Homo sapiens: one gene and its partners. The protein of the gene in region 3 purifies or fractionates together with the protein of the main gene of each other region. This does not show direct contact. Each region holds a gene or a part of one and is shown on either strand. Other genes may lie near its edges. The genes, in order: PTPN5, SATB2, TBX19 and CAD.

Evidence for each region.
Region 1: the proteins of TBX19 (region 3) and PTPN5 purify together in Homo sapiens (affinity purification with mass spectrometry; one large-scale study listed by BioGRID and IntAct). This does not show direct contact.
Region 2: the proteins of TBX19 (region 3) and SATB2 purify together in Homo sapiens (affinity purification with mass spectrometry; one large-scale study listed by BioGRID and IntAct). This does not show direct contact.
Region 4: the proteins of TBX19 (region 3) and CAD purify together in Homo sapiens (affinity purification with mass spectrometry; one large-scale study listed by BioGRID and IntAct). This does not show direct contact.

The regions. Positions count from the first base shown.
Region 1 is NC_000011.10:18,780,342-18,786,272, reverse strand, and holds part of PTPN5 (tyrosine-protein phosphatase non-receptor type 5), read left to right. Parts: intron 1-5,931. UniProt on the Homo sapiens protein: May regulate the activity of several effector molecules involved in synaptic plasticity and neuronal cell survival, including MAPKs, Src family kinases and NMDA receptors.
Region 2 is NC_000002.12:199,450,654-199,456,584, forward strand, and holds part of SATB2 (DNA-binding protein SATB2), read right to left. Parts: intron 5,444-5,931; 5' UTR 5,385-5,443; coding exon 5,216-5,384; intron 1-5,215. UniProt on the Homo sapiens protein: Binds to DNA, at nuclear matrix- or scaffold-associated regions. Thought to recognize the sugar-phosphate structure of double-stranded DNA.
Region 3 is NC_000001.11:168,310,944-168,316,424, reverse strand, and holds the end of TBX19 (T-box transcription factor TBX19), read right to left. Parts: intron 3,718-5,481; coding exon 3,423-3,717; 3' UTR 1,999-3,422; downstream 1-1,998. UniProt on the Homo sapiens protein: Transcriptional regulator involved in developmental processes. Can activate POMC gene expression and repress the alpha glycoprotein subunit and thyroid-stimulating hormone beta promoters.
Region 4 is NC_000002.12:27,222,617-27,228,547, reverse strand, and holds part of CAD (multifunctional protein CAD), read right to left. Parts: coding exon 5,888-5,931; intron 5,683-5,887; coding exon 5,511-5,682; intron 4,986-5,510; coding exon 4,800-4,985; intron 4,632-4,799; coding exon 4,519-4,631; intron 4,204-4,518; coding exon 4,058-4,203; intron 3,804-4,057; coding exon 3,672-3,803; intron 3,539-3,671; coding exon 3,305-3,538; intron 2,844-3,304; coding exon 2,622-2,843; intron 2,418-2,621; coding exon 2,229-2,417; intron 2,024-2,228; coding exon 1,899-2,023; intron 1,717-1,898; coding exon 1,586-1,716; intron 1-1,585. UniProt on the Homo sapiens protein: Multifunctional protein that encodes the first 3 enzymatic activities of the de novo pyrimidine pathway: carbamoylphosphate synthetase (CPSase; EC 6.3.5.5), aspartate transcarbamylase (ATCase; EC 2.1.3.2) and dihydroorotase (DHOase; EC 3.5.2.3).

The DNA of each region.
Region 1 (5,931 bases), on a different chromosome or scaffold from region 3:
CGAGATAGAGCCACTGCAGTACAGCCTGGGCGAAAGAGCGAGACTCCGTCTCAAAGAAAAAAAAAAAAAAATAGATTCCCCCCATTCTTTAACATCATCTCCATCTTTTCTGCATCTGGTGAGATGTGGAACGAGCATCATGGCCACCGGTGTCTGGCAAAACTCAGTAATTTCCAAACTCTTAGACTGAGAAAAGCTTTTCCCACTGTGCTGCAGCACATGGAACAGAAGCCACCCTCCTTCCTTTGTCCCCATTGAAGCAAGCGTGACTCAAGTTTCTATACCTGGGGTGTAGCATGTTGGATGGGGAGGGGATCCCCTCACACCAGATGCGGGAGATCCACTGTTTGCAGATTTGTAAGGGAACAAGCATCATGGGAATTCCTAACTTTGGGCTAATGTAAGGGATAAACTGTTCACAGCCAAATTTCCTGGTTAGTCCAGTAGCAAAATAAAGACCCTAAATTGCCCTCCTTTTTTGTGGTGAGGTAGTTGGTTGGAGTCATTAGAGAGACACACCAAGTCCTGAAGTGTCTTTCTGAAGAGTCGACATGAAACAGCCCCTCGCCTCCCATTCCTCTGCAAGCCTTTCGGGAGGGATTTGTGGGCCTCAATGGTGGCAGCATATGGGCATCTGGAATCAATTCTGAAGATTCTTGCAAAACTAACAATGTGTGTATTTCATCATCTGCCTAAAGATGTTGTCTGGTATAAATTATAAATTACAGTTGTGAAAATAACCATACTCCATGCTAGAGAACAAACGTAAGATGAACCATCATTTTATATGCCCTATTCTATGTTTTCTGTAAATCTGTATTTTGTAATAGTTGAAATTAGTCCACATATAGGTTTATAGCCTGCATTTTTCACTTAACATTTTGTCATGACTTCTCTGTTTATACTTGGTTGGCTGACCCCTGCTTTATTTAACTATGTCTTTATTGTTGCACATAGTCAATAATGAGCATCTCCAGGCACATAGCTTTTCCATCTCAGAGTCTCAAAGCATCCATCTGAAGCACCCTCAAGAGATATGATGGGATCAAGGTGGTTAAAGAGGGGTGCAAGGAAAAGAACATGTCGTGGCCCTGGCGTCTGGAGTAGAAAAAGAACAGGGAGCTTGGTGCAGTGGCTCATGCCTGTAATCCCAGCACTTTGGGAGGCTGAGGCAGGGGATCATTTGGGGTCAGGAGTTTGAGACCAGCCTGGCCAACACGGTGAAACTCTGTCCCTAGTAAAAATATAAAAATTAGCCAGGCATGGTGGCGCACACCTGCAGCCCCTCCTACTCAGGAGGCTGAGGCATGAGAATTGCTTGAACCCAGGAGGCAGAGGTTGCAGTGAGCCAAGATAGCGCCGCTGCACTCCAGCCTGGGTGACAGAGTGAGACCCTGTCTCAAAAAGAAAAAAAGAAAAAGAACAGGGAACCCAAGAGTTGGAACCAAGGAGAGGATGGAGAGGAAGATAGATCATGGGCCAGGGGGTCAAGGTCACAGAGCCCTAGGGGTGGCAGAGGGACATGCAGCTCTGTCAGATTTCAGAGGGAAGTCTGTCCTTCCAGTGTTTTGTTTGTTTGGTGTGGGAGGCTTTTATTAAATTGTGGTAAAATACACATAACACGAAATTTACCATTTTAACCAATGTTAACTGTATAATTTTGTGGCGTTAAGTATATTTACAGTGTTATACAACCATCACCACTGTCCATCTCCAGAATCTTTTTATCTTCCCAGACTGAATCGCTGTACTCATTAAATACTAATTCCTCATTCCCATCTCCCCCAGCCTCTGGTGACCTCCGTTCTACTTTCTGTCTCCATAAATTCACCTATTCTAGGTGCCTCGTGTAAGTGGCATCATGTTTGTCTTTTTTTGTCTGGCTTCTTTCACTTAGCCTAATGTTTTCAAGGGTCGTCTCTGTGGTATCATATATCAGAATCTCATTTATTTTCAAAGCTGAATATATTCCATTGTATGGATATACCACATTGTTTGGCCATTCATCTGTTTCCACCTTTTGGCTATTGTGAATAATACGGCTATGAACATTGGTGTGCCAGGATCTGTTTGAGCCCCCGCTTTCAATTCTTTGGGGTATATACCTCGCAGTGGAATTGCTGGATCGTATGATCATTCTGTGTTTCACTTTTTGAGAGGTGCAGGGTGCATTTTTTAAAAAGGATTTTTGTGTGCCCAGTATGAAGACCACTGAGTGAAGTCTTAGGAATAGAGAGTCCAGGAAGAAGCTGTTAATTTAAAAACTAAATGTTGTTTGGGTTCTGCATGGCCATGGAGGTAACAGAGAAGAGAGAAGAGGGAACAGAATACAAATGAGTCTGACTCCGTTTCTGAAGAATTGTTGTGATTTAGAGGCATTGTGGGTGGAAAAAGAAAGCTCTCAGGAGAGATCTTAGTGGGTGGAATTGATTCAAGCATGCAAGTATTTACTGTACCAGGCACTGTGGTGGACACAAGGCCCTCAGCAATCAACACGACCACAAGGACCCTGCCCGCAAGGAGCTTAATGTCTAGTGGAGGTGCCAGAGGAGTCACCTGGCAACAGTGGTCTGTACTGATGCATTCTAGGCTCATCATAAGCACTCACTCTTACTGAGTGCTTACTACATTATCTCAATCTTGGTGACAGTTCAGTGAAGACGGTTTCTGTTATCCTCAATTTGCAGGTGAGGAAACAGAGAGCTTGAGTAACTCTATTTCAGGTACGCACAGCAAGAGTCAGAGCCAGAATTTAAACCTAGGCAGTAACTGTGCTCTGTAGGGCTGTGGGAACACAGGAGAGACACCTGCCCAGGACGGAGGTCAGAGAAGGCTTTCCGAAGGCAGGGGTCAGGTGAGTATTTTCACGCAAGTCAGCTGTGTTCTTCTTTAGCCCATGATGTAAAACAGTGCTTTCCTATAGTAGCAGCAGTAGCGTTCAGCCCTGCTTCCAGGGACTCTAGACACTCAGGGAGACCCCTTCACTGAGACTCCACTTCAGAGGAAGATGATCACTTCTATCATCCTTGCTGCTTATCATGAGGCAGGGAGGCTGGGGGTGAGGCATTGCCATTTCCCACTGCCATCTGCTGCCTCTGCTACTTCCCTAGCTGGTCAGCATCTGAGGTACCTCAGAGGGACCTCCTGGGGCCCCTTCGGGGCAGCATCAGGCCAGTGGGCTAAGAGTTAGGCAAATACGAGGCCTAGGAGTGGCAGTGAAAATCATATATCCACCTTCTGTGCCACATCACTGTCCCAAGATACTCCCACCACCACAGAGCCCTGTCTTACCAAAGTACAGATGTGGCCAAGTCTCTGGTGTTTCCATCCTTCTGTGGCTCCCCATAGCTTGCAGCCGTATTTCTCAACAGGGACCTACTGGCCTTTGGGTGGGAGAGTTCTTTGATGTAAAAGCATCCCTGGCCCCATCTCCTATATATTTGCCTGGAGCACCCTTCAGTCATTATAACAACCAAAAATGCTCACACATGTTCTTCAGGTTTACTTTACAAGCAGTCCAATGTATAGATCTTAAGTGTTCTGTTCAGTGCATTTTGACAACTGCATGAGCTCATATAACCATCACCAAGAGCAAGACTCAGAAGATTTCCATCACCCGCAAAAGTTCAGAGATAACGATTATTCCAATTTCTATCATTGTAGATGGATTTTGTCTGTTCCTAATCGTCATATAAGTGGAATCATATAGTACATGCTCTTTTGTGTCATGAAATAGTTTTTAAGAAGCCAGACGCAGTGGCTCATACCTGTAACCCCAGCACTTTGGAAGGCCAAGACGGGTGGATCATCTGAGGTCAGGAGTTCGAGACCAGCCTAGCCAACATGGTGAAATCCCATCTCTACTAAAAATACAAAAATTAGCTGGGCATGGTGGTACACACCTGTAGTCCCAGCTACTCGGGAGGCTGAGGCAGGAGAATCCCTGGAACCTGGGAGGTGGAGGTTGCAGTGAGCCAAGATCATGCCACTGCACTCAAGCCTGGGTGACAGAACGAGACTCCATCTCCAAAAAAAAAAAAAGACATAGTTTTTGAGATCCATCCACGTTGTCACGTTTTCCCCACTAACCCCCAATACACACACAGATTTCTAAATGCCAACTAGCATGGCAATACCTGCCTCTGTCCCCCTGAGAAAAAATGGCCTGTGAGTCAAAGTTAGTGTGTCTTAGGCTGATTCATGAAGCCGTCTGCTGTGTGACAAGAGTCCCTCTTACGTCTACTCTGTGGCTACACTGAGCTGCCTCGTCTGCCTGGCATACCTTGTGCTTTCACCTCTCCGGGCCTTTGCCCTGCAGTGTTCCCTGCCTGGAATGTCCTCCCTGTATCTGGTGAACTCCTGCTTGTCCTTCGGGTCTCTTCTGTGCAGCTTCCCAGACTCTGTTTTTGTGCCCTCCTGAGTGCTCCCATAAGACAGCCTCAGTGGGCCTTTAATGCATTTCTCACTCAACTCACTAGGCCGAATGCTGGGTGGAGGGCAGGGACTGGCTCTTAGTTATCTGTGTGTCCCCCAAGGCTCAGTACAGAGCCTGATATTAAAGAAATTGATATAAGATTATAGTAAGATTATCTTAGAGACAAACTGGGTTTAAAATACAAAATATATTCTGAACCACCCCCTGGAGCTAATAAAGTTGGAGCTGGGCATGGTGGCTCATGGCTGTAATCCCAGCACCAGGCCGAGGCGGGTGGATCACTTGAGGTCAGGAGTTTGACACCACCCTAGCCAATATGGTGAAACCCCATCTCTACTAAAAATACAGAAACTAGCCAGGTGTGGTGGCAGGCTCCTGTAGTCCCAGCTACTTGGGAGGCTGAGGCAGGAGAATTGATTAAACCCGGGAGGCGGAGGCTGCAGTGAGCCTAGATCGCGCCGCTGCGCTCCAGCCTGGGTGACAGAGGAAGACTCCATCTCAAAAAAAAAAAAAAGTGGTCAAAAAAAGACAGTCTGATCTCTGGCTACAGATGATAAATGTAAACTGACTTCCTGCCAGTGAGGCAGAGACCTCCATCCCTTCCCCAGAGGACCTAGCATCATGGGAAGTGGCATGGATGAGTGCAAAGTAGCGCAGCTCAGGGAGTCAAGGGGGCCGGGGCGGGGCCGGGGGGGTGCGGCAAAGATCAGAGTCAATCTCAGAAGGCTGCCTGGAGGAGGTGAGTTCCAAAGGTTTTCAAAGAGGTCTCTGTGTCAAGCCTAGGAGTTGCATAATCAGAGTGTGAGAGCCCTAAAGCATGATTCAAGGCCACCTGGATCGTGGGCCTGATCTGTCCTCTCATGACCCTGGTACTGAGTGTCATGCAGCAGCCCTTCCCTCTTCCTTCACTCCTTTCCACTCATGTCTTTCTTCTTTTTCTCCCACTTGGTCTTTCCTTCCCATCTTCCTTCCAAATCTGAGTGTAAAGGAAAGAGCTGGACCTGCCTTCCATGTTTTTTTCTCCTCTGCACTGGGCTTTCTGTCGTGGGGGATAAAGAGGGGGTTTTATCCCTTGCCCCTTGTCAGCCTGGGAAGTTTACAGAAGCCAAAGTTATGGACAAGAGAGCCAGGGAGCAGCCCGGGACAGGGTGTGGCTCATTACCAGTTTCCAAGTCACAAAAAGTGCTGGGGGAAGGATTGAGCCAGAGGAGAGGTCAACACACCCTAGACTCACTAGGGAGGTTTCCTGGAGGAGACCTGGGCTGAGGTGGGCCTTGGAAGGGCTGGAAACCACAGCACAAAGAGGAGGAGCAGGAAGGCCTTTCCTGGCCAGGCCTGAGTGCAGAAGGGTTAAATTAGGCGGGGGGCAGGGGCCCTGATGAGAAGCTGGAGCCCACAGCAGGGTGTGGCAGGAGCTAGGGGCCGCTCTAGGAGCTGAGAGACTAAGGCAGAAAAGCAGGAGGGAGCATGGCTGGGGCAGGCGGATGTCATGGCAG
Region 2 (5,931 bases), on a different chromosome or scaffold from region 3:
TTTGGAATTCATCTAGCCCTGTAAATTTAACATGTCTTTTTAAATATATACACATATGCTGATTCTATAATAAATACTTTTTAAAAAGAAAGAAAAATAGGGGTTTTAAATTATAACCATCAAACTTCACTGCTTACTACTTTGTCAGATATACCAAATAATTACTGTAGTCTTTCCTGGAATAAAACTGATTTCCGTATACTTAAAATGACTCAAATTCATATTCTTAGCTATCTAATAAATGATGATTAGTCTGTTTTCCCTTCTCTACAGAGATAGATTGGTTAAAACAAAATTCAAGAAAGAAAAGAAGAATTCAAACAGGATATCTCATATGTACAGACTTTGCTGGTTACAACCCTCTGGGAAAGGATGATATTGCTTATTTTCTGCAGGGGTTAAAAAACAGATGCCTTAAGGGACATCTATGTAGTTCCAACACACACACACACACACACACACACACACACACACACACACTGCACTACAGATGATCTTGAGTATACAATGGTCAGTGGGTTTCTTCTGATGGAACATAAGGCTTCCAAAATTACTTGAAACATCAAATTATGCTCAGGACTTTGAGGGGCGGATACCCTATGTTCTGTTTAATGTGTATGTTCCACTGCATATATTTTTTTAACCAAGTATATCTTTATTTTAATAACAGGCCAAGAACTAAAAACACTTTAGAGAAGAGTTATTTTTCTACCTCAGCAAAACTACAGAGGACAGGCTAGATTGTTGGATGACCCCAAAGCCTAAGTTCATTCTATTTAAAAGATCTTAAAACCTTAAAAAAAAAAAAAAAAAGTGAGGAGGGAGAAATACAATCTTTTCTCTTTTGAAGTAATGTGTACTTCCTACAAATATTATGATATTCATCCTTGGGAATGGAGTTTTCTCCATTTTGCCCATGTTAACAATATATTTCTAAGTATTTTATAATCTCAATATATACCTATCTATACTTTCATATCTGCATTCCTTTCAAAAAGTTAAATGTCTCTCTACTGTTGCTGATATGGTGACTACACCTGACCCGAACTGCATTTCTTTTCATCTAAAAGGAAGTGTTCCACATGTAGACAATTAAACTAACTGTTGTTGTAGACAATGTTCAGCTTTAAATGAGGCCCTGACTAACAATCTTGATCACATTTGCTTCCCTATTTGAATACATCAGTGTGTACTGCATAATGATTTTTTTCCCCCTTGCAACAAGACAGTTATGTTCTTGAAAGGGCTGCCTGGTAGCACGAATAGGTCTACTTCAGGTAGACTAGTTATAAGATAACTTTAACAGACAGTATGCCAACAAAATTAAATTGTTATTTATAAAACATAAATTATTTTTCAGAAATAAGCAAGTTTTTTTAATAAAAAAAGCAAATCTCTCTAAAAGATATTTTCAATGTTTAAATATTTTTCCCTAAAATGTAGAACATTTAACACCAAAAAATCATAAAAATTCATAGGAAAATGAAAAATATCAAAAAGATTTCTGATGTTTAATGTCTCCTATCAGCAAATACACCATCTGGTATATTCAAGCGCTGTTCATTCAGTTTAAATAAAGCTGTCTGAAAGTTCTTCTTTAAGCCAAACATTAAAAAATGAAAATGCTTGTGTTAACAATGAATGAAGCACAATAATTTATTGCTATTAAAGCACAACTGGCCAGCACCTTTCAGCAGTCCAGGAGAAAAGCAGAATGCCTTGCTTCCTCTGGAAACTTGATTGGCATCACTTTCATTTTATGCTGTAAGTTGCATGGCTGAAGCATTCCATACAGCAGAACATTTTAGGTACTTATGCTAATAGTGGTAAAAAGGATCATCTGATTCTTATTTTCATCATCCTTAATAATCCCTTCTTTTCCTAAATCTTCAAATAGATCTGTAAGTTTTAATCAACAATTTCACAAATATAAATTTCCCCACCATTAATCATCCTTTTTCAAAATCCTTATGGAGTGAATTACTAGCTGAGAGGGGACGCCAATTCTAGTAAGTGAATGTTACCCAGCAGGGATATAAAGCTGTCAACACCATGGTGCTCTTGCTAGCTCTAAACTCTCTCCTAGCCTTCATATGTTTTTTAAAGAGATATTAGCCTTTTTTTTTTCCTAAGGACCGTCTGTAAAAGCTGACTGACATACACATCTGAGCACTTACATTTTATTACATACATGCTTTAAAACACACTGCTCAGATAAGAGTAAAAACATCCCAGAAAGTGTTGGAAAGACAAAGCAAAACATCTAGTTTCTAACAGTCTTCTAAAGCTAACCACATAGTAAACAATCCACTTTTAAGTCCCCTGTTAAAACACAACCTTAAAGACAGTGACAGTGTATCTACCCTCTCTTCTATTTAAATTGAGACACTAAAGTAATGCCCCTTCTTTTATGAATACTTAGTTCTCATCAAAAAACACAGTAAATTCCCTCTACCTAAATAAGTAGAGTAACAGCAGAATTTATTACTGCAACCAATGCATTCAGAAGTATATTTAAACTATATTTACCTCACTGCTTATCAAAAACAGTAAGATAAATTGCTATTTGATTTGACAACCAATTAACTTGATCTCCCTTATTTTTAAAAGAACAGCTTTTAAGAAAGAGGAACACTAAAGATTAACAAATATGTACTCCCAAATTTTTGGCTCCACTTTTAAGACAAATTTTATTGTATCCATCATTACACCATTGAAAAGACTGCAATATATCTGAAAACGGTAATAAATGATACAGAGCTATAAATACTTGTGTAGTTATCTATGCTTATTATATTGCTTTATAAAGAAAATTTAAACAAAAGAACATAGAATGGTAGAAATATAATCTACTTTATATTTACTCTATGTTCAAAAAAATCCTTTAATTATAAAAAAACTAACTAGAAATGTATTTTAAACATTTTTTAAAATTTAGAATGTGCATTTTTCAAAAGGCCTGGCTTTGCTCCAAACTGTATACATGGTTAACAGTTACAAAGAAACTATTAACATCTTAACATACATTTGGAAATTATATAAACTTAAACTCATAATTTTGTTAACATTCAATTAGAAACCTTTGTACTATCAAAATCTTATCTTCTAAGTTGTTATATTCTAAAGTTGTCTAAATTAATCTCTTTACACACTATTATGCTGTCTTTTTTAAAAAAATTTAAATTCCACTAAACAATTTTAACCAGTTTACTATCGTGTATTATAAACGATATGTATTGAGACAAAATAATGTCATCTTTATTTTCAATTTGGGAAGCAGCTAATAAGACCTCTGCTATTACTAAATTAAGTTAATCAAGAGAAAGTGTCTAAGGCAGCTGGTTGAAACAAATCTATTATTCTTCACCAAGATAATAATTTTAGTTTATATTAAACACATAAGGGCTCAAATGTGAACTATAGTCTCAGAAAATTTGAAAACCAACCACTATTTAACACTAAAGTTATCCCTGGTCAACAGAACAAGGCACTTTCTTTCATAGTTCAACATGATATAGAGGAGGGGAAAAAACTTGTTTTAGGGAAGCACGTTGTTAACAATTACATTCTAAAATGTTTACAGCTCCTTTCAATTTAGTGAATTTTATTAGATCTTCAGAAAGATACCAAAATTTTAAGTCCAAGCCTTTTCTGTCCACAAAGGCCACTTTGGAACACACTGTCTCCAAGGAGTTTCAGAACTTTTTCAAACATTTTCAGCACTTAGCATATCTCATAATTGGTACCATCATACTCTATGAATTTTTATTTCTTATATGCATATACTAACTGATTATGCCAAAAGTCTGACATTATTTGCTCCAGTATCAGGACAACAAATTAATAAACCTCTCTTTTAAAAAGTGGGTCACAGAACTGTTTTCTTTTGCTTCAATAAAGTATATTTTCAAGTCCCAAAAAGGGGAGATAAACAAGCCAGAATCCATCACCAAACTTTTTAACTCACAACATTGAAAGGATGAATACTTCTCAAGTGAGACGATTAATATGAAAGACTGAGACAAACCATCCTAAGTATTTACCATGAAGAAATAGAAATAGCAAAATAAGTAAAAAGAAAAAAATACGATTTTATAAAACGTATGTGTTCAACTCTTTAAGGAGGAATGAACATTTTTAGATGTAAGTAACTATTTTGAAATACACACAATAGACACTTACAACAAGGGGGTGGGAGCTTATCATTAAGGTTTGCCAAGGTTTTATATCATTTAAGACAAGTTAATATATTGAATATTAAATGGGCTACTGTTGAAATTATTAGAGAAAAAACGTTAGAGGCAAAAAAAATTAAACTAGTGATTTATGCCAAACACACAGAAAACCTGCATGCCATGTGGAATTGTGGATTTTACATGTAAAAGACAACTAAGCAAATGGCATACAAACTCCAAAATATTTCAATGTTTAAATTTCTCCCATATCTTTATTTTGTATGATTGCTTTTCCTGACCACTTTAAAAGAAAGTAGTTGCTTAAGTAGTAAAAACTACAAAAGATTTTCTTTAAATAAAATTATTAATAAATTCTTTGGAGGGGAAACTACATCTAGTTGATAAGGCTACTTTGCTATTTTTATCTGTTCTCCTATAATTCATAATAAAGTTACGAATGCATATGACTAAACTTTATAGACAACAGCAGCATTTAAGCTTCTAAGGGCCTGATGGATTCATGGTGATTCTTTATTTCCCACATTTCACGTGGCAGGAAATATTCCCAGTTGTCATTCATCTGTCTTGAAGCACTGTCCTCACTACAAAGTAACATCAACTCTCCTTGTTCCTGTACTCGCCTGAGCATTAATGACTATTTTATTCCCTAAAAGCGAACGCACGTGAACTTCATCCCTACAACAGACACTCCGAGGCAAGGCAAAAGAGTTAAATCACTAAAAAGCTCTCTAGGAAAATCTAGAAACAGTTAGCTGGCTGTGACATAAACCTGCCAACACCTCAGCACACAGTGGCAAAATGCCCAAAAAATGCCACCCTCTGGGTAAAACCACTTTCTTGTTTTAACTGGAGATGAAGCTACCAGTTGCAGATGAGAGGCGACGGGGGCATTATTTGGCAACCTGGAATTCACTTCCTGTAATCCTACACCGCGACAGCGCCTAATCAACCTGAACCCTGACACCCGGGCCATTATCACTGGGCCGCGGGCTGCGCGCCTCCCTGCTCCGGGCTGTTACCTCCCACGGCCTTGGCCACGGCGCCGTTGGGCCTCCCGCGGGCTCCCATGGGGCTGCCGTTCTGCTCCAGCCGGGCCACCTTCACTGGGGGAGGCCCCTTGACGTCCGGGCTGCCGCTCCGCCGGTCGGGGCTGTCCCGCAGACACGGGCTCTCGCTCCGCCGCTCCATGCTGCTCCGACTCGGAGACAAAGTTCCCACCGGCAGGTCGCAATAAAACGCACAGGGACCTAGGGAGGGGGTGGGGGGAGGAAGGGGGAGGGAGAAAAAAGAGGGAAAACCGCTCATACACGTGATAGACGTTCAGGCCAGTGGCAGAGCGCTGCACCACAGCCACACAAACTTCCTCCCACGCTGCCCGAGGGGCCCGAGCCGGGAAGCCGGTCCCAACCTTACACTGGGCGGCCCCCAGGAAGCCCAGCGCCTCGGTTCGGCGACTCTGCCCAGTCGCAGCTCCCCAGAAGTCAGCCCTCGGGGTCGCGGCCGGGGTTGGCACCCAGGGGCGCCTAGAAGTGGTCCATTCATTGGGACGGGGTTGGCATAAACCGTTCCTGGGTGCTACAGCCTAGCCCGTCCCGGGGTCAGGGTTGCGGAATAAGTGAACTTCAGAAAAAGACGTTCCACCCACATGGGAAGGGAGTTGGGGGTGTGCGCAAGTCCATAACCGAATTAACCACCCGGTAAATGCGCTGTGAATGGCCAGGCAGGAGCCAAAGGC
Region 3 (5,481 bases):
CAGGGAAGGGAGGGCTGGTGAGGTCACACAGACTCAAATAAAGGCCCCACAGTAGGGGACACTTTCCAATAGGCCAGGCTTCAGGGAGAGTTAGAATCTCTACCATCTGGCTAAAAGTATTGCATAACTCTTCTATTCAGGTGGGATTTCAGTTTCTCTTAAATTTCATGAAATAGTCCAGAAAACCTGAAAGGCACCATTTTTGTTTTATAGTGAGTTGAGTAGAGAAGATACATGAGCAAGGAAATGGTATACAAAACTCCAAAGTTTGTCTAACACATTACAGAAGCTAATCTGTCACTTACTAAACTGACTTATGTAACTAGTGTTGTTTCTTCTGATCAGAAATTAGCCCTAGACTATTTAAAGAAAAAAATAGAAAGTGTCTCTGGCTAGATAGCTAACAGCAAATAGAGATCCTATTTGTGGAACCAGCTATCATGGTGTGTGTGTTTAAGAATCACAGCAGGTTCCAAGCTGAGTATCCTACAAGACGGAGAGACGTGATCACCCCAAACTCAGCTAATGCTCATGTTATCATGCTGCAGAGGACCCCATTCACCTGAGCAATATAAATGAAAATATAATGGAGGCTACGAGCTTCTTTCTGTTCTGTGTCCCTGGGCCAGGTCTTCTGTCTGCTCCAGGCTAGGGGAAGTGCAGGAAGGGTGAGACTCAAGGTGGGTTTTTATTCCCTAATTACACTTGCTGAGCTCTTGGTACAGGACATGTGAAGGACTTGGTGCCAAGACTTGCTGCAGTGACCAGTAAAGAGGCCTTGGTCAGACCTGCTGTGGCAATTACAGGCCACAGTAGCCTAAAGTTCTAGCAGATTGAGAAATGACCATCTGTTATAACTTACCAAAGTACTGTCTTGCAGAGATACTAATATATTAATACCTTAGTGACCTCTAATGGTATTGTAAAGGGACTGGGAAACAGGAACAATGCTGCCTTAGGGGCATGCTGACCAGACAGCTTTCCAAATGCATGGATCCATTGTGCCTTGGCCACTCACACGCCAACTAGTGGCCCAGAGCGCTGGCCAGGCAACCTGAAGTCAGGCAATGAGTCTTCCCTGGACACCACGTAGCTGGAGTAGTATTGTTTCCTGAGATCCAAAAAACAGAACAGCACAGAAATATTGGGCAGTGACACCAGTTGTGACACCATAGCATGTTAAAGGACCTTTCGCTATAGAAAGAGCCAAGGACTCAATAGTACCATGTTTGGACCCCTCAGACTAAGCCTTGGAGTGGGCTGGGTTTGCACGGGTTCAGCTGATGGAATAGTGGTGGAAGCAGCTGAGCCAATGCTAGGCTCCAAGTGGAACTTTAGACTCCTCAAGTGGCGGCCCTGAGAAGGGCTGCTCAGCCAGTGCAGTCTAAAGTCAATGTTTGGAGAACTGCTCATCACCCAGGTCTGGAAACCTCACTCCCAAGGTTATTAGCACATCCAGTAGTAGGTAGAAAAAGAGGAGGAAGACTCACGAAACTGATTCTGCTCACGGGTTATAGCAATGACCTTGGCTGGGGCAGAGGTAAAAACTCATCTGAAATAAGGTTCCTGGAGTATTTATCATCCTGTTTCTCTCTTCTAGGCAAGGAGTTTCCAAACCTAGCCCAGGGCCAATGCCTGGAGCTCTTGTTTGAAATGCAGATTCCTGAACGCCAGCCCCAAAGATTCTGATCCAACAGGTACGGGGTATACCCACGAATCTGTATGTCTAGCAAGGGTCCCCTGTTCCAGGTGATCCTGACTTAGGGGATCCAAGAACCAGTATTTGGGAATAACCACTCTAACACACCCTGTCTCCATATATGATTGTCATTCACTGACAATTGGTGGTGCCTCAGATGAGAAGCCCGTGTAACTAACAGCCAGCATGTTCCTAGGCTCCCACACGGATGCACCTATGTGTCATGGGGCATGTGTCTCTGAGATCTGCCCCCCAGCCACTTCACACCGTCCTTGTAGCACACATGCACATTACACCAATTCAGTTCAGCAAATGTTTATTGGGCACCTACAATAGGCAAGGCACAGTACCAGCTGCTGTGGGTTACAAAGACAAGAAGGCTAGGCCTCACCCTCGAGAGGCTTACAGTCTAATAGGGAGAGACACACTCACAGGTAACAAAAATACAAGGCAAAATGAGGTGAGCTCTATGGCAGAGGCAAAAACAACGGGAGAACAGCGAGCAGAGATAGATCAGACATATCTCAGCAGATCAGATGTTGGATGCAGGGAGTGACGTTTCAGCCAGGCTCTGGGAGGTGGGTCGGATTCGCACAGGTGAACTGGAAAAAAGAGGACACTAAGGCACAGGCAAGGTATAGAGGTGGGAAAGTGCAATGAATGTTCAGAGAACAGAGATGCCTGCCTTGACCAATACATAGGAGGCCAACAGGATAACAGAGGGACCTAAGCTGGGGAAGTGGTTTCAGGCCAGATGGTGTGATCGCTCGTAGTAGGATTTCTTTCTTTCTTTCTTTCTTTCTTTTTTTTCAAATGAAACAAAGCCTTGATCTACCACCCAGGCTGGAGTGCAATGCCACAATCATAATTCACTGCAGCCTCAACCTCCTGAGATCAAGCGATCCTCCTCTAAGTAGTTGGGACTATAGGCACAGGCCACCATGCCCAGCTAATTTTGTGTGCATGACTATTTTTTGTAGAGACAGGCTCTCACTTTGTTGCACAAGCTGGTCTCGAACTCCTGACCTCAAGCGATCCTCTTACCTTGGCCTCCAAAAGGGCTGAGATTATAGGCTTAAACTACCACACCCAGTTATAGTGAGGAGAATTGACTTCATTCCACTGGTAATGGTGAACCATTGAAGGTTTCTGAGCAGAGGAGTGACATGACTTCATTTCCACAAGTCTGGGCACACTGCTGTTTGTAATACATGATTAGCTTTATTCTTTTTGTTAACCTTACTCTATGGCTTACACCCCATCCTGGTCTCAAAGCAGAAGTGTGAACCTGAGCCCTGTGGCCACACATACTTTCCAGGCTTCACAAAGCAGGAAGCAGTGGCCTTAGCTAGGTAAACTCTGAGCTCATTTAACAGCTTTGCACCTTCTCCACAGAAAAGGAAGTGAGGCTTTCCAGAACGATTTGAGAATAAGAGGCAGGGCACAAGGATGGTACTTAACAAACTTCTGTCACCTAAGCATGGCAAGAATAAGCTGCAGAGAAAATGGGAGTGCAGAAGAAAATGGTGGAGAGATGCAAATGATCTAACTAGCATCATCCAAACTGAACCCTCTCCCAGTATGACTTCTGTAATAACCCACCTCCACCTCCAGCTAGTGGGAAGGGAGATTCCACAGTCTGACTCACTAGATCAGTTGATGGGGTTTCTAAGCACTCTACACATGGAAGGATCGCTGTGCAAAGAGGCTCCTAGGATCCTGCTTAACCATCCAGTGAGGAAGGAGAATGGTGCCCACCCGCTCCTGGGCCACCCCAGCCCGCGAAGGGATGCGAGGCCACTGCTGTCCAGGTGGACACAGCAATGCTGGTTAGCGAGGGCTCCCCCAGAACCTCCACACCAGCCGAAGTGGGTGCTTGGGTGGAGAGCACAGAAGGGGGTGAAGTCACAGCTGGGTTTCCGAGGAGAAATGCTCCTGGGGTGCTGGCGTGCACCTCCGGGCCTGGCCCACTGGGGCCTCCGGCACCATTGCTGATGGTCCACAGGCACGGGTAGGGGCTGCAGAGACAGAGAAAGAGGGGAAGGGAATGTTCACTGGCACTCCAAGGAAGGAGTGCCACCTGACAAGCATGTACACAGTGCTGAGAAGGGCATGGTTACAGGAGGGCTTCTGGCCATGGCTTTATTTCTAGCTATGACGCAGATTGGTCCTGTTTCTGCAGAAAAGCTAAGAGAAGCAGCAAAGTATGGTGGAATAATGATAAGATTAAGTATTCTGGTACTGGCCCGGCCACCAGCGAATTATTTGGTTTTAGACACAGAATTTCATTTATCTGGGCTCCCTTGCAGCCTATGTAAAATTGGCAGGGCAGTAGAAAAAAAGGTATTAAAACTGTATGATTTCTGCATATGATCTCTCCCTGGCCAATGTGGCATAATAACCAGGAAACATCACTGTCAGAAGACTTAAGTTTAAATCCCAGCTCTACCACTTAATTAGCTCTGTGGCCTTGGCTAGATTATTTAATATCTCTGAGTGTCAATTTCTCATCTTCAAGATGTGGATTCATAATTTTACCTACCTTACAGAGATTGCTACAAGGATTAAATAAGAGGAGTATATGGTCCTTAGCATGTAGTACTCAGTAAATGGTGGTTGTTAACATTAATTCTTCCATTCCTGGTCTCCGCCTGTGAGCTCTGGTGCCTGGCTGAAAGGCTGGGAGCTACAACATTTTCTTTGCCTTCTCTAGTTCTGTAGCACAGGTTCACACACTTGATTGCACATTCGGCACATTGGAATCACTAGGGGGGGTTTTTAAAGTAATATTGGTGCCTGGATCCCACTCTCACCCCACTCCCCTGCCCCAGAGATTCTGATTGAACTGATCTGGCATGCAGCCTGAGTACGAGGATTTTTTTAAGTTTCCCAGGTGACTGTAATGTACAGCCAAGCTTGCACCTTAATATAGATGCAGTTGGAACAGGTGCAATGAACCCAATGTTTTCGGCCTGTAGTCATCACTATGTTTCTTACATTTTAGAGTTTCTGCATTGCCCAACACTGTATTGCTTGATAATATGCTTATTATCCAATGGCAATATTGAATACATTTGTTTTGTTTTGTTTCTAACAAAATATTTATGGAGTCAGGAATGAGTTAAACACACCAACAGGGAAGCCAGAGTTGGCAATGCCATCCTTCACCTGGTGCCATTTTTCAATGCTACAGGCCTCTTTGGACCATATGAAACCTTCAGCAGCCCATCCTCTGAGCTCTCTCTGAGCTAGCTCAGCTTATGGGGATTCTGGCCCCAATCTTCAGAAGATGCTCTTCTACATTATCTCTTACAGACCCTTTCTGATGCCTCCTGGGCCAGTGGGAGAACCATGGGCTCTGAGAGGTACTGCTTACTGCAGAACCTTCAGGAAGTTTTTAAGGCCTCTGAGCTTCAGTTTCTTCATCAGCAAAATAGGAATTTTAATACCTGCCTTATAGTTGTCTTTGAGTACTACAGATGACTTATATATGGATGACTTATATATATGTAAGTATCTAGTATACAACTTGGCACATGATTGTTTAATATCTTCAGGGAACCTCATCTTCACTCTCTTTCTCACTTCCTACCACAGCCCAAATCAATGTTTTTCCCTCAGATCCTCTAGATCAGTGTCAAATGCAAATGATCCTCTAGATCAGCGTCAAAATGCAAACCATAAATGCCAACTACATGTGTAAGTTTAAATTTTCTAGTAGCCACATTTAGAAAAAAATTAATTTATTAATATTTTATTTAACAAAAATATTCAAAATATTA
Region 4 (5,931 bases), on a different chromosome or scaffold from region 3:
GTACAATCACAGCTCACTGCAACCTTGAACTCGTGGGCTCAAGCGATCCTCCCACCTGAGCTTTCCAAAGTGCTGGGATTAATTACAACCACCGTGCCTGGACTGGATATGATGTTTTCTGTTTTGGATAATCTCCTTAGGATAAATTTCCAGATATGTAGAGGCAATAGGTAACACAAATTTTATAGCCCTTGATGAGTACGAATAACTTTATAGAAGTCTGTGCTTCATAATACAAAGTTTAAGCAACCTTCTAAGAAGTGGGCATAAACAGAGTCTCATTTAACTAGATTTCTATTTACTAATGAGAGGAACCGTCTTTTCTCTAGGTTTGCTTATTGATTTCTTCTTCTGTAAAGTGTTGTTCATCTCCTCTGACTATTTACTCTAGGGGCTTAAGTATTTCTTACCAAGTGTATTTTTCTATTTACAATCCTAACATTTACATTTCTTTAAAAAAGTTTTAAAAACACTACGATGTTAACAGTAGTGTGACTGATTTTGTTCAATTTCTTTGTAACTGTGGTTGTAAGACTTTTTATTTTGAGATTTGTTAAAAAAGGAGAAGCCTAATACATGCATACACATATGCCTAGAAATGTATGCAGTCGTAGATACACGGCTGAATTATGCAGTCGCAGATACACGGTCGAATTAATCAATCTCTGTAAGGCAAGATTACAGGTGACTACTGTTCTTTGGTTAAACTATCTTTCCTCGTTTTCCATGATTCATGTTTCTTACTTGTATAATAAAAGTTACAAAAAGTTACCAAAGAAGACCACATTCCAAGAATACTTGAACAGATGTAAAACAATTAAATGTCTCATCTAGGAACCAATCTTTCATTGGCCTATTTTCAATCCACTTCTTTTTGCCACAATTTAATTATGGCTTCATTCCCATGTTTATTCTAATTTTCATATAACAGAGATTCATCTCCAGAAGGAAAAAATTGGCAGTCTTGCAGAATTTCTAAAAATTCTGAAATAATATCTGAGCTTAGACTTACTTGTTTAAAGGCCACTACTGCTCTAAATGGAAATCTGGAGCACCACAAAATGCTCTTATCCATCAGGCTGGTGGCGCTGTGTCTGGTACACGTATATTTTTGTTTTGGTTGAAATGTGTTAGAGGACGGTCTTCGGCAACTAAAGGGATACCACAAAGAAACATACTAACTCAATTCTAACATGCTCTGCCACTGCTGGGTAACGTTACGGCCATTCATCATTCACTAATAAATTTCCTTGTTACCAAAAAGGTTTATGATGCCCTGCTCTGATGTAAACATCATACTAAAAAAAAAGGTCATTTAGTGACCAAAGCACAAAGTGCCAGAGGAGGAGATACTGCAAAAATGAGATGAGATAGTCTGATGGCTTGCACCTATCCCAGAGATTCTGTATTCCAACACAGATTTCCAGATGCCTCCCCAACTCCTGACAAGGACTATAATCTTAGTTTGAAATGTCTCAAGCACCTGCTCCCATAGGACGTAAAAGGCCATGCCAGGGAACTCTTGACATTTAAGATTCTTGGTCATGGTGGGGCCCCATGGGGGTGCCCAGGGCATGAGTCTCACCAACGCTCTTCATGCAGCTCCCAATCTTTGTGCTGACTCGCAGGAACTTGCTAAGGTCCCATCGAGGAATCTTCACCACACAATAATCCACGCTGGGTTCAAAGGCTGCTGTACCCCCTGTCACAGAGTTCCTGGGGTCCAGCAGGTGGGATGCCAGAAGGACAGTGAAGGAAGCATAAAGGGTGAGCTTCCGGATAGCTCTTTCCATTCCCACAAATCCAGGCCAATGTCCTTTTCATATTCCCTGTCCCATCAATATTTTCCTCAGCCCCCGACCCACTTCCCCACTGTGATATCTCCCTCATCCTCGTACCTGAGCTCAGGCAAAGGGATGCCCAATGCTAGCTTGGCTGCCACATAAGCCAGTGGATAACCTGTGGCCTTACTGGCCAGGGCAGAGCTGCGAGAGAGCCTGGCATTCACTTCAATGATGTAATACTGCAAAGAAGGAGAATAAAGTCACTGGCCTAGAAGACCCTGTCTAGGAGAGGTCTCAGAAAGGAGAGAAAAGTAACCTAGTAAAGAAGATTCCAGCTTGTACTCCAGGGACTGTAAGCCCAAAAGACCTCAACCTCAAGGGCCAAAAATTATACAAGAAGAGGGGGTAACAACTAGACTATCAGTTCCAGGGCCTAGAGCTTACCTGCTCAGACTCAGGGTTCAAGGCATACTGCACATTGCACTCCCCAACAATTCCCAGGTGCTGGGTCACCTTGATAGCTGTCTGCCTCAGGAGCTGATACTCCCTGTCATTCAGTGTCTGGCTAGGGGCCACCACTATGGACTCACCAGTGTGGATGCCCAGTGGGTCCAAGTTCTCCATGTTACACACCTGTGAAGGGGGGTGCCATGGAGGTCACTGCCAAGCAGAGTCAGGAGAGGCAGAAGGCTGCACCCCAGGGTCCTGTTACCTCTGGGGCTGCACCTAACCTGGGTCTGAGGGACATACAACTCTCAAAGACCTTGGCCTGGGCCTCTGCTCTTCCAAAAGCTCATCCTGCCTGACACGACGCCCACCCTTCCCCCATTCACTCACCGTGACACAGTTGCCATAGGCGTCTCTCACCACCTCGTACTCAATCTCCTTCCATCCCTTCAGAGACTTGTCTACTAGCACTTGGCTGGTATGGGCAAAAGCTGGGGCCACGAGAGCAGAGAGCTCCTCCCTGTTAGAGGCAAAGCCAGAGCCCAGGCCACCCAGGGCAAAGGCTGCACGCACTAGCACAGGGTACCCCAGCCGTTCAGCGGCTGCCTGGGCCTGCAATGAGTGGAAGAGATGAACAAACAGGTTATTTCCTACTGTCCAAGGTGTGCCTGTCCCACATAAAAAAAGATATAAAGAAAATAACATGGCTGGGCATAGTGGCTCACGCCTGTAACCCCAGCAATTTGGGAGGCCGAGGGTCGGGGGGGTGGATCACCTGAGGTCAGGAGTTCGAGATCAGCCTGACCAACATGGAGAAACCCCGTCTCTACTAAAAATACAAAATTAGCTGGGCATGGTGGCGCATGCCAGTAATCCCAGCTACTCAGGAAGCTGAGGCAGGAGAGTCGCTTGAATCTGGGAGGTGGAGGTTATGATGAGCCGAGATCACGCCACTGTACTCCAGCCTGCGCAACAAGAGCGAAACTCCGTCTCAAAAAAAAAAAAAAAAAAAAGAAAATAACACTACCAAAAAAAACACCACCATTCTTCCTTTACCCAAACACCCCTCCAACCTGTTCAAGAGAATTTGCTGCCTCGCTCGGGGCCACATGCTCTCCGATCTCTGCCATTCTGGCAGCAAAGGCCCGTCGATCCTCGGTCAGCTCAATGGTCTCCACTGGTGTGCCCAGGACCCGGACCCCATACCGAGCCAGCACCCCGGCCTTGGTCAGCTCCACACCACAGTTCAGAGCAGTCTGGCCCCCAAAAGTCAGTAACACACCATCGGGGCGTTCATTACGTATCACCTGAGGATGGAGAGGGGAGTTACAGGCATCAGAACCTTGTGGGTAGAGAGGCAATCAAAGTTTAATAACCCACAGTGACCACTGGGCCCCCCTGCCCAGTCCTCTTTTCATTCCAGCCTTGCCCCAGTCATACCTGGGTTACATAATGAGGTGTTATGGGAAGAAAATAGACCTTGTCGGCCAGCCCCTGGGAGGTCTGCACTGTGGCAATATTGGGGTTGATCAGCAACGTCTGGATGTTTTCCTCCTTCAGGGCCTTAATTGCCTAAAAGGACAAGAATGGCATCTCAGCCTCTGCTGAAGAAGCAAAATTGCAAACAGCCTTAGAGTAGCATTCTCCTCTTCTTTCCCTCCCTGTACTCTTGGCCCCTAATAATTGACTTCTATTTCTTACTACATCTTTCTCTACATTCCCCAAATCTGGTTCATTTCCTCCCTGCAACCTTAGCCCTTCTCCTTAAGACCCTTTCCATTCTTGAGGGTCACACGCCCAGAAGGGTGGGGAGGAACATGCCTCACCTGAGAGCCCGAGTAGTCAAATTCTCCAGCTTGGCCAATGGAGAGGCCCCCTGAGCCCAGGATCAGAACCTTTCGTGGTGGTGGAAGTCCAGAGCCGGGAGTGGGAATCCCAGGGGGACAGAGGCGCTCAGTCAGCCGCTCTCTAACTGTGGAAGCAAAGAAGGTCGTAGAATGTTAGAGCTGAGCTGGACCCAAGAGGTCAACTGGATTAGCTCCCTCGCTTTCAGAAGAGTCCAGAGCAAATTATGCACCTCAGGAGGAGCAGAGGGAGGACCAGAACCCAGGACCCTGGAGTTCCTTTCAACAGAAGCTTAAACGGTATCTTGGGTTGGTTGCCACCCATCCCCAATACCCTTAACCTCCTAGACATCTAGGAGTTGCCCAGGGCATGTCCACCTTATGCCCATCCTGGAGCCAACCCTGTTCTTAGGTCCACAACCCAGTTCTACTCAGGATCTTACCTGTCTGGCCCCCAGGGTTCCCAGCTGTGGCCTCTTTCACAGTTTCCAGAAAGATATCGAAAAGCAGTTCCATATCTGAAGGGCCAGCTTGGTGCTCTGGGTGAAACTGGACACTATTGAAGAGATTGCATCATGAAAACCATCATGGTCCCTGGCATGACACTGGCAGCCTCGAGGTGGGTAGTGGGACAGGGGACTCGGATCCACTGCCGTGCTTTACTTTTCCATCATCAAGGCCCACAGGGCTTCAAATTTTCACAGACCCAGTCAACCAGGCTCACCTGAAGAAAGGCAAGCTGTTGTGCACAATGCCTTCATTGGAACCATCATTGGCGTTGGTGAAGAGAGGAGCCCAGTCTGCTGGCAGTGAGTCTGTCTCCACAGCAAACCCATGGTTCTGGGATGTCAGAAAGCAGCGCCCAGAGCCCACCAACAAGCAGGGCTGGTTATGGCCTCGGTTCCCATATCTGGAGGTAGAAGCATGCCGAGTCACAGGCCCTGCTCACCCTCTCTTCACTACTGAACCTACCCCAGCTCTCACCGATCTCCTGTTCTCAGTAGCCTCACTCCTGTTTCCTTTTTGTTTTTTTTTTTTTTTTGAGACGGAGTCTCCCTCTGTTTCCCGGGCTGGAGGGCAATGGCACGATCTCCGCTCACTGCAACCTCCACCTCCCAGGTTCAAGCGATTCTCCTGCCTCAGCCTCTGGAGTAGCTGGGATTACAGGCGCACGCCACCATGGCTGGCCAACTTTTGTATTTTTAGTAGAGACAGAGTTTCACCATGTTGGCCAGGCTGGTCTCGAACTCCTGACCTCCAGTGATCCGCCCACCTTGGCCTCCCAAAGTGCTGGGATTACAGGTGGGAGCCACCTCACCTGCAACCCCCCCGCTCCTATTTCAACACGAATAAACACCAACTCTCTTCTCATTCCTGAGACACCCCACCCCTCATGCCACAAGTATGGGCCCCTTCTGCTCCCCACAAGTCCCACCTCATCTTGTAAGTCTTGGCCCCAATGGCTAAGGCCAATAGCTGGTGTCCCAGGCAGATCCCAAAGACAGGTCGGGGATTAGGCTCAGATAAAACACGGCTCAGTGTGGATACGACACTGGGATAGGAGGCAGGGTCACCAGGCCCATTACTTAAGAAGAGACCCTCATACTCTGGAGTGGGCAGAAAAGATGACATCAAAATCAGTATTTCAATTACAGGAGACACACCTGCAGCCCCCCCAGCCCATGAGAGTGTTAAGTCCCAATGTCTATCTTCTTCACTGCAACTCCTACTGACTTTTAGCAATTGGACCAAGGGATAGATCTTCCACCCAAGCTGCTTGTCTGAGGCCCTGAACAGGCCCCAGCTACTCACCTTGGCTGTCTAGTGCATGGTCCCAGGGTACCACAGTGACCTCA